Homo sapiens: one gene and its partner. The protein of the gene in region 1 purifies or fractionates together with the protein of each later gene. This does not show direct contact. Each region holds a gene or a part of one and is shown on either strand. Other genes may lie near its edges.

The links.
Region 2: the proteins of CD36 (region 1) and CROT purify together in Homo sapiens (affinity purification with mass spectrometry; 2 studies listed by BioGRID and IntAct, with this or other methods). This does not show direct contact.

What each region holds. Positions count from the first base shown.
Region 1 is NC_000007.14:80,662,620-80,669,647, forward strand, and holds part of CD36 (platelet glycoprotein 4), read left to right. Parts: intron 1-353; exon of another isoform or gene 354-370; coding exon 371-550; intron 551-1,786; coding exon 1,787-1,878; intron 1,879-3,823; coding exon 3,824-3,870; intron 3,871-7,028.
Region 2 is NC_000007.14:87,348,664-87,355,691, reverse strand, and holds part of CROT (peroxisomal carnitine O-octanoyltransferase), read right to left. Parts: intron 6,645-7,028; 5' UTR 6,624-6,644; coding exon 6,509-6,623; intron 1-6,508. UniProt on the Homo sapiens protein: Beta-oxidation of fatty acids. The highest activity concerns the C6 to C10 chain length substrate. Converts the end product of pristanic acid beta oxidation, 4,8-dimethylnonanoyl-CoA, to its corresponding carnitine ester.

The DNA.
Region 1 (7,028 bases):
GAATGTGCAGGATTGTTACATAGGTATACATGTGCCATGGTGCTTTGCTGCACCTATCAAACCATCATCTAGGTTTTAAGCCCCGTATGCCTTAATGCATTAGATATTTGAGAAGACCACTTTAAGTGTATCGTTAAATAAATAGAGCTTAACTTGGAATGTCGTCTTCTTGTGGCTGGCACTGAGGCAAAGAAATGTAATCATCTAGGAATTAGACGAATTGCATTTTGAGTTTTGGCAGGATCTGGCAGTAATTTTAAAGATAAGCTTTAAAAAGTTTTGTATTAAGCTCAATATTAGCATTTAATCCATTTATTTGTTAAAATCTAATATTGTATTCTTGTCTTAAACAGTGACTTTGTTTTTGTAGGCTGCATCCCATATCTATCAAAATCAATTTGTTCAAATGATCCTCAATTCACTTATTAACAAGTCAAAATCTTCTATGTTCCAAGTCAGAACTTTGAGAGAACTGTTATGGGGCTATAGGGATCCATTTTTGAGTTTGGTTCCGTACCCTGTTACTACCACAGTTGGTCTGTTTTATCCTGTAAGTACCAAATATGAATGGCAATATTATTACATTTTAATTTAATTAATTCAATGGCATTGGCAAGGCATAATTTTATAATTTAGCTCATTAGTCTTATTGCTGATCTGGAGACATATATCCTAACTTTTTAAAAAGTCCACTTCTCATTATAGCTTCAGCTTTCCTAGTTGGGAAATTCATCTGAATTTAACAATTAAATTTAAACCTGAAGAATAGATTTAATAAGGTTTCTACTCATTTATAAATACACAATTTTTTTTAAATTAGCCGGTAAGCTAGTCTGTAAATCTTTGAGCACTGTTTTTGGCTTTTATTTCCCTATTCACATAATCAAGTTTAATACCATATTTTTATTTGTTTTAAATATACTCCTCATTCCTCCTTTTCTAGACCTCTTACAATTTTAATTTATATTTAAAAGTTAGCCTAATGTTCACATCTCAATACTGATAAGGTAATAGACTTCATTTTAATGGGATTTGTAAATAAGAATTTTTAGTAGTCCATAATGTCATGAAATGGCAGCTTGAAGATTAAGGAAAATGTGAACTTGATGGTGTACTTGATTACCGCTTAATGTTTTGAATTACAAATAGGATAAGCTAACTACTGAATTGGAAGTTGGACTATGACTTCATTTGGCACTATATGTGAATATTATGTTCTCTAGTTCATTGTTTTACTTTTAGATACTGTTAGGATTACAAGGTTATATATCAATTATAAATGAATGTAGAAAGCCATAATGAATCAAATTCATTCTGATTTTAACTCAATACTCATAGCTCTTTCTTTGGCTAATGCTTTAACTTTTGGATGTCTAATTTTTATCATTTTAGTAACCACTTATTATCATTTTAGTAACCACTTATTAATGACTGTAACATTTAGAATACCCCTAGAAATCATTGTTCTTATAGGTTTGTTCAATGTCCCTCACCTCAACATAGTAAGAATAGTGATCAAAATGCCCTCATTGGCTTAATTATGACAGAGTGCTAGAGTTCACATCATGTCAGCTTCTGATATGTATCTTCTTTGTCACAGCATCTAGCACTTATTTCTAGGCACCTTTCACAATTTTTAAGGCCAATAATTTAAAAAAATGTATTGCAGATGTATTTCAAGTCATTTGAGTAACCAGTGATTGAGAAATGTGAAAGTGAGTTATGTATTGTACAACTTTGAAAAAATGACTTGTAGAAGTAACATTTTCCCATACATATATTTCAGTACAACAATACTGCAGATGGAGTTTATAAAGTTTTCAATGGAAAAGATAACATAAGTAAAGTTGCCATAATCGACACATATAAAGGTAAAAGGTAAGTATTCTGGTAAAATGTGCATGTATGTTACTAGGGTACTCTTAAGCAGGAATAGTATTCATTTAACATCTCATAAGACATAGGCATCAACCTATAGAACAGACCTGGTTATAATTCAGCTCTGGAAACTCCTGTTCTGCTAGGTATTAACTCTTTAGTTGTGGTAACTGGTGAGTTCACACCAGTGCATAGCTGCTGACTATCAGCTCCACTTTAAGGTTTGGTTCACCTTTCTGCACAGGTTATGGTTGTGTTACATAAATCCCCAAAGGGACTATTTTTTCATCTCTGCTACTTATCCAGCATTACAGTATAATTATTCTTACAATTAGATAACCATAAATGAAAAGGTAAAAAAAAAAAAAACAACACATCAACTGATTGTGTAGTAGATGGAAACTTTTTTTTTACTTTTTAAATCGAGCATATCGAATTCCATATTCCAGTGGCATGACCTAAATGTGTCTATAAAGATGGAAGCTTAATGAATCCAGGCAACTGCTTTCATGACCTTCCCCCTGCAAATAGTCTTTAATAATTTTCCATATTGATAACTCAGCTTTTTTAACTTTATCAATGCAAAAATAGAATGAATATTTCAAGTGCAGTTCTACAATGTAAATACAAAATGTGAAAATGAAGACTTTGCCAACTTTAAAGTGGTAAAATAACAAATCAGCTTCCTAAGCCATTATTTCCTTTTTTTTTTTCTAGCTCCAGCCTATTCACCTAAAGAATTTATAATTTATCATATATGTAAACTAGGAAGAACCCTAATAAATATCAGAGGAACAAGCTTTCTTCTCCATAAAATTAACAATTGTGTGTTTGACTAGTTTTTTTCTGAAAAAGAATAAAGTGATCAAAACCAAAAGAGATGAAATGTTTTTATTAATATAAAGTAACCCCTACCTCAAACTGAGTCTATCTAATGATTGCTTTTAACAGCTAAATATTACTAGTGGAGTACTTTTTCTTCTAAAGAGTCCACAGTTACATATTTTTATAGAAAAAGTCAGTAGAGGGAAAAAAACACTTCTAAGTATTCACTTAAAAGGAAATCACAGCAATTTTTTATATTGAGAAATAACGAGCATTTCACTCTAATATTACAGAGAGATGTGGAGGGGAGTTGCAAAGCACTCCTAGTTAGAGTAAGAATTTCACATCATTTTAAGATTGTAAGGTTGATTTAACTCATGGCAAGACTGAACATGATTAACCACTTATTTTGTTTAAGCAATGGCTTGTCTTGACATGTCACTGTCAGGAGTGGAAAAAAAGTTTTTCCATCACCAAAAAGTGAGGATGCAGGGAAACTATTACTATTGTTTTTATCACTTCCAGATATATATAGCTTATTTAGACAGCAAAGTATAAGTTAGTAAACTCTTTCCTACTTTAACGCCAGTCCATGGGAGAATTAAAGGGAGGAAGGGGCAAGAATATAAATTAATCATCTACATGTTTTGAATGTTTGCTGATCCAAACATCTGCTTCTTTCCTCTTCCCTGCTTCTCTCTTCTGCCTGCCTTGTACTTAGCTTATATCAGTTACCCACTTAACACTTTCCTTCTATTCATTCTGAACACTTATACTACTGAGTAATTCATGTATCCCATTGGAAAAAAAAAAATTTCCCCTAAGTAGAGATCTAAGTTTCTGATAAATGTTTTTAATTTTTTTCTTATTCCAAGATGTTTCTAATTAACACCTGGCAGTTTTTATTTTATGATCTGGCTACCTAATGGCATCAGGTACATTGCAATAAGATAAAAGGTTCAAACAAAACATAAACAGAATTGAACATTTCTTAAACTTAGTACTTGTCACATTTAAATGCATCATATTAACAGAAGTATTGAATTATAATAGAAAAAGTAATGTAAGAAAGGTATTCTTTAAATAAGAATGTTTATTCATTGTCTTTTTCTATTCCTAGGAATCTGTCCTATTGGGAAAGTCACTGCGACATGATTAATGGTACAGGTAAGAATATTTGTTTTGTGGTCATCACAGTTAATCCACCTCCCTTTCCCACAAATCCACCGTTGTACTGACAGTGTTCTGAAAGTTGAGGGTGTGTGTTTACTTGCCTTTATATCCCCACAACAAAATTCAGAGTCACTATTTGTATATAGGCTAAAGGTCTGTTCAATGTGATGGGATTTGTAAAGATTAATCATAAAAAATTAGCCCTTACTGCATGATTCAGAGAAATGTTTGCTTTGTAAAAACTTTACTGCCATCCTGGCAACAGAAGTAAATGGTAAAAAACAAACAACAACACAAAACACTTTAGTTACATTTCAAATATTTTATAAATAGTATACAGATAAGTTAGAATTGAAAGAATTAAAAAAAGCTAATTACAAAATAGAAAACATATCTAAGCAAGGCTTATAGCTGAGATAGAATAAAGTTGCAAGACAGAACCATCCATTTTTGGATAAGGTGGTCAGAATGAGAGAGAAAACAATAACAAAGTCAGATGTCTTCTTAACTGTGAAAAATATATGTAAAAAATGAGCATTCATAAACTTAGATTTAAGGTATGGTTAGATCAGGCTTATTCTCCTTCAGGAAAAGCAAAGTACAGATATGCCTATTAGTTTAAGAATTAAGATTTTTAAAAAGCAATGGGAGGCTGGTCACAGTGGCTCATGTCTATAATCCCAGCACTTTGGGAGACCAAGGCAGGTAGACTACTTGTGCCCCGGAGGTTGAGACCAGCCTGGGCAACATAGCAAAATCCCATCTCTACAAAAAAAATACAAATATTAGCTGGGTGTGCTGGCACACGCTTTTAGTTCCGGCTACTTGGGAGGCTGAGGCAGGAGGATCACTTGATTCCAGGAGGTGGAGGCTGCAGTGAGCTATAATTGTGCCTCTGCACTCTAGCCTGGGCAATAGTGTGAGACCCTGTCTCAAAAAAAAAAAAAAAAAAAAAAGTGGTGGGAATCGAATACCATGAAGTAATTAATATCCAGAGGCAAGCTTTCAACTACTAGGAAACAAAAGCATGAAGTTTAGAAAATTAGGGAATATCCCATAGGAAAATGATATAACAAAGATAAAGACACTTAAGTAAAAATGAAGTACAGAGAATGTTTACTTTGCCAAAGGTATGATTATTGACTTCGTATGCGTACTTGATTCTATCATTGCCTTGTAGGAAATGATAAACAAAAAAAGCAAACAAAAAAAACAGCAAAAACACTGTTGGATTTGCAGGGGTTTTCTTTTGTTTTTTTTTTTTTTTTTTTTTGAGACATAGTCTGGCTCTGTTGCCAGGCTGGAGTGCAGTGGTGCGATCTCGGCTCACTGCAACCTCTGCCTCCTGGGGTTCAAGTGATTCTCCTACCTCAATCTCATGAGTAGTTGGGACTACAGGCATGTGCCACCACACCCAGCTAATTTTTGTATTTTTAGTAGAGACGGTTTCACCATGTTGGCCAGGATGGTCTTGATCTCTTGACCTTGTGATCCGCCCCCCTCGGCCTCCCAAAGTGCTGGGATTACAGGCTTGAGCCACCACACCTGGCCAAGGCTTTGCAGGGTTTTGAGCCATAGGAGTGGGCAAATAAGCTATTTTCTAAGTAAAGCATTTCTGGAAATAAATTTTCAAGTCCTCAATACTACCAATGCTAGTAGTTGTATAAGCGGAATACTTAGTCCTTAGATGCAGAGATAAATATACTGTGTTAATCCTAGTAAAGGATTCTTTAAGGAGAAAAATCTTTAAAAAGAAGATTCATTGACAATAATAGAAATGCATGAGCATCAGGCATGATGTTAAAAATATCTATGGGGAAAATAGGGCTGATACAAACTAGGAAAAGAGGGAATTTGGACAGAGCAGGGGATGATCCCTGTGAGAGAGATTCTTGCTTATGGCACTAGCGAAAAGAAAGTAATAAAACAGTAAGGTTCTAATGTGTTTTCATCGTAATTTAGAAGTGCATCCTCTTTACCTTCTTCAGTAAGTTTGAAAAGACTTAAAATGAAAGTATTGGTATACATTTAGAATGTTTCTTTTGGGAGGACAGAAAAAAAGCTCTGCAAATATCAACTATGTTGCAGTCATTGTCCATGGTAGTTGCTGGGTATAATTAGGACATAATCTTCAATGATATTTTAGATAATGATCTTAAAAGCTTTTCAATGCATTTTTCTTTAATTATTAAGGAAATGGAAAAGCAGTTGTTGTCAATGTCCATATGGGGGCTTATATTTTACTTGTCACAAGAGTGTAAACTAATGAAAACAAGGTCACAAGGTTGACACACTTGCCAGAGAAAGAACCTACAATGCATAATCAAAGATGAGACTTACCATTTAAAACTCATTCAATGACGGCTCGTATTAGTGATATTCATGTGAGAAGTACATGGAGGAGTTAACTATTTCTTCATATATCCAATGTTTGCCATGGATCATAGCTGTAGCAAAAAGTAAATTCAATAAATGACTTTTTTATACACTTTCAAAGCATTTGAAGTTCTGTTTAGTGAGAGAACTTTAGTAAATATTTTTAGAAGTAGTAATCAGCCATTAGGACAAATGAGAAAAAAAATCACTACAAATAAATGTGGACATGGCAGGAGATCCAAATGAACTTCACTGGAAGAAAAGTGCCACTCTACTGGTGGGGTAGGGCATTTCAAAAAACAAACACAATGTTAGCCTTAACATTTCATGTTTAAGTTTCTTTTATTTTGTACCATTAAATATGTATAGTATGTAGATTTGTTGTTGACAATAGCAGCCGCCAGCCATATGTAACTGTTAAGGACTCAAAATCTGGCTAGTATGATTTGAAATGTGCTGTAAATATAAAATGCACAGTAGATTTTGAGACTTTAAGAATTTAAAATATTTTATAATGGTTACATGTTAAAATATTTTGGATATTAATAAGTTAAATATAGTTTTGTTTTGTTTGAGACAAAGTTTTCCACTTGTCGCCCAGGCTGGAGTGCAATGGCATGATCTTGGCTCACTGCAGTATCCGCCTCCTGGGTGCAAGCAATTATCCTGCCTCAGGATAGCTGGGATTACGAGCGCCTATCTCAGGATAGCTGAGGCAGGCCTATCCTGCCTCAGGATAGCTGCCTCCCAAGTAGCTGGGATTACAAGCGCCTACC
Region 2 (7,028 bases), 6.7 Mb from region 1:
TAATCGGCTGTTATTTGCTGTCTGTGTCTCGCTAGTGACACATGTCGCCCTGTGCTTGCATGCCCTGAAGTTTACACCTGTCATTTTTTTCTGGTCTTGATGATTTTCATTCTTTGGGTTATTTAATTCAGCATCTCTCAATTGAGGGAAGTGAACATTCTCCAAGTTGAAAAATAATAATAATTTTATATAATTTAGAGCTTATTTAAAATTTACCTATGAAAGAAGGTAAAAAGGAACAAGTAGGGAGAGAGAGATGTGAAGAAAGTTATGAATATAAAAATGTACTTTTGGCCGGGCCCAGTGGCTCATGTCTGTAACACCAGCACGTTGGGAGGCCAAGGCAGGTGGATTGCTTCAGGGCAGGAGTTCAAGACCAGCCTGGGCAACATGGCAAAGCTCCATTTCTACAAAAAATACAAAAATTAGCCTGGTGTGGTGGTACATGTCTATAATCCCAGCTACTTGGGAGGCTGAGGTGGGAGGATCACTTGAGCCTGGGCTGTCAAGGCTGCAATGAGCCGTGAATTTGCCACTGCACTCTAGCCTGGGCAAGAGAGCGAGGCCCTATCTCAAAAAAAAAAAAAATACATATTTTTGGTAAGAAAGGTTATACAGAAGGGAATACTTTTGTATGAAAAAGTATCTTGTATGGTAAATTTTTGTCCTAAAGTAAAATGACTGATTATTTAGGAAAGAGAGAAGTTTAGAACAAGTCAGAAAGTCCAAGCATGTCATAGACGGTTTGTGTAAGTCATGATAAGATTTGTGAAGGGGAATTCATGAAAGGAATTTTGTATGTGATTAAATTGGTTACAGTGAAAAGAAAATCATTTATAAATAAGTCTTTCTAAATTTTGGTCCCCGATGTTAAAACAAGATTTTTTTATGGTATTAATCTGCTCTTAATAAAATTACAAGAAATTTTACTTTTACTTTTATAAACTGTTTCTTTTAAAAAGTCTCAGAATCATATCCCAGAAGTTCAGCTTTTACTGTGTCTCACTGCTTTTTGCTTTTTTGAGGTCTGAGATAATTCTTTCCTTCAGCTTTCTCATCAACTTTTTTTTTCTCCAGTTCTAATTTTACTGTTGTTATGAGCTAATGCTAAAATATTTTATCTTGAAGGTCTAGAAAAGCAATGTTTACCTCTAGTATAACTTGATTCTGTACTTTTGGCTTTTAAAATACATCTAAATTGTCAATGTAATCAAAAAACTAATGCTGTTCCTAAGAGTGAGGTAATCCTATGCTATAATCATAACCTTGAATATACTCTTCCTAGGTCCAGTTAAATCCAAGCACTTTTTTCATCAGGTTTGATGTCCAGGTTATCTAAATGGGCTTCCCATAAGCAGAAGTAGTCACACTGCAGAATTTTTCTTTGCCTTTTTGGTAACTGTCTTAAGAAACAAGATTGTATAATTCCTATGCTGTCTTTATTAGGTTTTTTTGGTTGCCAAAACTAAGATTTAAAAGGCTTAAGGTTTTTACATCATGTAACCTTCTGTATTGCTTCTAAAGCATTTTCATTATCACTTTGGCTAAATGAGTAACTATTATTTTACAATGACCTCTGCTTCTGTTTTGATCAAATGTTTTCAGCCTTTTAACATGTTTAATAAACAGCCTCAAAATCAAAATCCTAAATTAAGTCTCTGACTTAGTCTTATTGCTGGGATTTATTAAAGTTATAAAAATTAATCACTACAAGACTGTAGAATCTTTTTACAGCTTTTAGTCACACCATGAACTCCATTATCACCATAATATAGTTTGGATGTCCCCTCCAAATCTCATGTTGAAATGTAACGCCCAGTGTTGGAGGTGGGGCCTGGTGGGAGGTGGCTGGATCATGGGAGCAGAGCCCTCAAGAATGGCTTGGGCTGTCCCCTTGGTGACAAGTGAGCCCTCACTCTGATTCACACCAGATCTGGTTGTTTAAAAGTGTGTGGCACCTCTTCCTCACTGTCACTCTCTCTTTCTTGCTCTTGTTGTCACCATGTGAAGTGCCTGCTCCTGCTTCACCTTCTGCCATGATTGTAAGGTTCCTGAGGACTTTCCAGAAGCCGATACCAGCACTATGCTTCCTGTATAGCCTGCAGAACTGTGAGCCAATTAAACTTCTTTTTTGAAAATAAATTACCCAGCCTCAGGTATTTCTTTATATCAATGCAAAAATGGCCTAACACATACCACCTCCACCCTGATAATTATATATACTAGAAAAGAATCAGTTAAAGGGCCAGGCGTAGTGGCTCACACCTGTAATCCCAGCATGTTGGGAACTGGAGGCAGGCGGATCACTTGAGGTCAGGAGTTTGAGACTAGCCTGGCCAACTTGACAAAACCCCATCTCTACTAAAACTACAAAAAGTTAGCTGGGCATGGTGGTGCATGACTGTAATCCCAGCTACTCAGGATGCTAAGTTGGGAGAATTGCTTAAACCCAGGGAGCAGAGGTTGCAGTGAGCTGAGATTGCACCAATGCACTCCAGCCTGGGCAACGGAACGAGACCATGTTTCAAAAAAAAAAGAAAAATAAAAGAAAAAAAATCCGTTAAAGGACTCCCTCTAGTTCCTTAAAAGGGTCCTTATCAAGTGCTATTAACTAATCCTTGTGCCTTACAGTTACAGGGCTTTGACTCCTGAGTACATATAGCTCATCTAAAGAAGGCACTGACTCCTGCCAGTATCTGATAGCAAGCTGAAGCTAATCAAAGCCTTGTCTTTAGACCTGGACAATCAAAGTAAACTATTTTCATGAGACCTACAGACAGAGACATAGGGACAGGCCTGTATTCAAAACATTAAGATTCATTTAATAATTTTGCCTATATCTGAATATAATTTTCTATGCCTTGATATTAAATAATTTAAGTATTTGGCTACGTATGGGCTTCTTTTCATGTCATTCTCATAACTAGGTAGGGCTTATGACATTTTTGTTTAAAACATTAATTCCTTATGTTTTGTTTTCCTCTATAATTTGAAACTATTTAGTCCTTCCAGGCCCAGAGACTACCACATGAGATTGTAAGGGCTTGTTGTGGGGAATAAAATCAATTCAGACCCTCCAAATCAAGGTCAGGCAAACTGCCTCTATAGCTGAACAAAATGTTGTATTTTATATGGCTAATTGCTACAAGTCAAGATTAAAATAGCTTAATGTATAGAATTTATAAATAAGCAAATTTTATAACCGTCCCATTTGGCTTTTGGCTCTTATGTTGCTTAAAAGGGGTTTTAAGGTTAAGGAGTGCCTGCCCACCTCCATTCCCATCTGGCCTAGAAAGTTTAATTGGCCATAAGTCTTTTGTTTAAGTCCCTTGGCCATAGTGGTCCCACCAAGGGACATGATGGATCCAGGGCAGGTAGCACACCACCCTGACATCAATACTGGACAAAATAAGAGCTTGGCCATTGATGGCATACCTTAACAAAAAAAAGGGGAACTATAAACTAAAATAAATAAGTTTTTAAAAGTTCTAAGCCCTTTCCCAACAAAATGGACCCTCTTCTTGGCCAAAGGGCATCCAAAACACCTGAAAACTAATTCAGGCCATGAGGGGAAGCAGGGAGATTGGACATGACTTGCCATATCTTTCCTCTTCTTGGAATTCAGTCACAACTGACTAGCTTAGCATTAAAATAGAAATCATAAGATTGACAAAACAGACTCTTTATGGCAATAAAATACCAAATTATAAATAGAATCTAAGATCACGTAAGGCAAGGGTTAAGTCTCTATTGCAGGGTAAACAGTCATATGTTACATGCACGTTTGTTCAATATTCATGTGTCAGAACCACCTCCATAAATATTCATAACTCTGCTGTTCAACCAGGTGACTTAGTCATATTAAAGACTTGGAAAGAAGGACCTCCTATAGACAACTTTCTCCAAAGTGGAGAGGACCCTATCAAGTGCTTCTAAGTACCTCTAGTGGAGTAAGGGAATACACACTTGGGTACATTCATCCAAAATTAAACCTGCCTCTCATAAAGTCCCACAGGCATTCAACGTGGTGACCACTGTTCCAGCACACTCTTGTGAGCCAATAAAGAATCCTGTGGCTTCTCTTCAAAAAAAGAATCCATCCAGTGGATAAGTACTACTCTCAAAATGAAATTACTAGTTTTAATATTAAACTTGATCTATTATAATATTAGAGCTAATTTGTTTACAGAATGGGCACAAACTACGGCCTCCCTTCTAAACCAGAAAAACTGTTGGGTACGCAGTGAATTACCTCTTTCATCAACCTCAGGCTTACCTTGGCATATCAAATAGGCTAATTTAAGCCATTCCAATTCCAATGAATGGTTTATAAGAGATAAATGCTTTCCTTTCCTTTTCTTTTTTTTTTTTTTTTTTTTTTTTGAGATGGAGTCTCGCTCTGTTGTCCAGGCTGGAATGCAATGGCACAATCGTGGCTCACTGCAAGCTCTGCCTCCCGGGTTCACGCCATTCTCCTGTCTCAGGCTCCTGAGTAGCTGGGACTACAAGGGCCCGCCACCACGCCTGGCTAATTTTTTTGCATTTTTAGTAGAGACGGGGTTTCACCGTGTTAGCCAGGATGGTCTCGATCTCCTGATCCCGTGATCAACCTGCCTCAGTCTCCCAAAGTGCTGGGATTACAGGTGTGAGCTACCACACCTAGCCAATATTTCCTTTTCTAATATATCAAAAAGACACCAGCCACTATCCTTCCCTTCCTCTACTGAAACAAACAAAAAAAACACCTTTTTCAATTATTCTGTAGATAACTAAATAACATCACCACTTTAGGCTATACCATTTTTGATGGGCTTAGTTGATTAATGGCTACCCAAATTCAGGTGACAGGTAAAGTACTCTTATGCCTTGAGAGACATGACACCAGCCACTTCCAGGCTGAAACCTACAACATGGGGTGGTTGCCACCCAACAATGCAATCAGACCCTGGTCTTAACTAATCAAAGTGGACAGAATGGCAAAATAAATCTCTAAGATTGCATGCTCATCCTTCTCCTTGGGGATGGTTATGGGCACATGGGTCTCACAATTGGCTATACCTACCTTACAACTGGACTGGACAATGTACTAGGGGTCAACATTACCTTCTACGACATATTGTTATACATCTAAATTCCTTCCTCACCAACTGAAAAATAGTCAAGGCCCACCATAGTTGATGACAAAACAGGCTTCTTGGTGGTTTTATCCTATGGCCATATTCTCTCTTCAAGCAGCAGCTATAGACATTGAATTACAAATAAAAGCTCTAGCAAAACATACTGGTGCGGCTTTCAATGACACTCATCAGGCTATCACACTTCTGACAGGAGAAACTTCCCAAATAAGACCAGTGGGCTTGCAAAACCATATGGCTTTATACATTCTTTAACTGCAGCCAAGGGAGGAACTTGTGTCTTGAACAAAACTGAATATTATGTTCCTGATTACTGCCATAATATATCCCAGGACATGAGTTCTCTAGAAACTTGTATTTTGGCTATGGATTCCCGGTCTTATGACCCCATAACAGCATAGTTTCATGAGCTTTCCAGCACTTGGAAAGCATTTCTTTTCAGTATGCTTGGTATTATAATATTCATTGTTATTAGTTATTGTGCTTTTATTTCTGTTGTGTTTATTGTATAGGGTTGCAAGATAAAATAGTTTAGCAGCTGTTTCACCTTTCTATTTACTAACCTAGTATATTAACTTTCTAGAAACAATTGGGATATCATGCAAGCAAGGAGCTCCCTTACTCCCTGAAGAGGCTCACTGCACACTATTATGAGAAGACCCTGTCCCAACCATCAACATCTACTGCCTCCAGGAAGGAGTTACAAAAGAACAACCTTCACCCTTTATCTCCCCTTAAGGTTAAGGGTTCTCTCATAAGTAGAGGGGGAAATGTTGGGGAAGCAGGAGCTCAGGAGAGCCAGAGTAACACCATTTTAAATTCAGCTCCATCTTGAGACTAGCAAGGCACGTTCCTTGCCAGTCATGACCCAGTCATAAGATATTTACAGTTGAGGAAACAACCTAAAGATACTTACAATGACACACTCCTACAACAGTAGAAAGTCCAGATGTCTCAATACCCATAACAATATATGTTTTTGAGATGATTAACATAATTCTTTGATGTATTCATGCACTAAAATGTCAAGGATTGTTTTCTTTAAATCAACAGAATAATAAATTTTGTCATGCTGTCTGCTCACCCTCACATAGGCACAGCTTAGTCTTTACATCGATAAGACCCCTATGTAAGAAAAACTTAAAGACAGTCTGCTTGCTTTCTGAGGATGTCCTACTCTATAATGGAGAAGCTTTCAATAAACTGTCTCTTCTCACTGCACTCTGCAACTCACCTTGAATTCCTTCCTGCAAGAGATCCAAGAACTCTAACTCTCTCTTAGAGTCTGGATCGAGACCCCTTCTCCAGCAACAGTATCACAGTTTTCTAAGTTACTAATAATATTAATATATACTAAAAGATTATTAACATACCTGATTCAAGGTATTTTTTTAATGATTCTTCAAGTGAAGGAACAGGCAGTGATGGAAGAGAATCCTGGTACTGAAATGTTCGTTCTTCAGTTGATTTAGCCAATTGATTTTCCATGATAAAATCACAATAGGAAACCTAAAGAAAAGAGAGAGAGCCCTCACAACTTCAATCTCATAGATAGTGTTACGTATCCTAGGTACAATTCACAATTCACTAAACCAGTATTTAGGGACCACAGCATATCTAGGACTTGGTACCAGCTTTTATGAAATTTATAAATCTGTCAGATAGAGAAAACCAACTTAAAAAGAATGTGTAGACACAAAGTGCTAGAAGTAAAGAGTGATCAGTGGGACTGGTATAATTAGTTACCATTTATTGAACACCTAGCATTTGCCAGGTACTCCAGTTTGCATTACAGAAAACATGTGTTAGCTCTCTAACTTTTATGTTATCTCTGAAAGGTGGCATTCTTTGCAATTTTACATATGAATATATCAAAACTCAGAAATTTAGTAA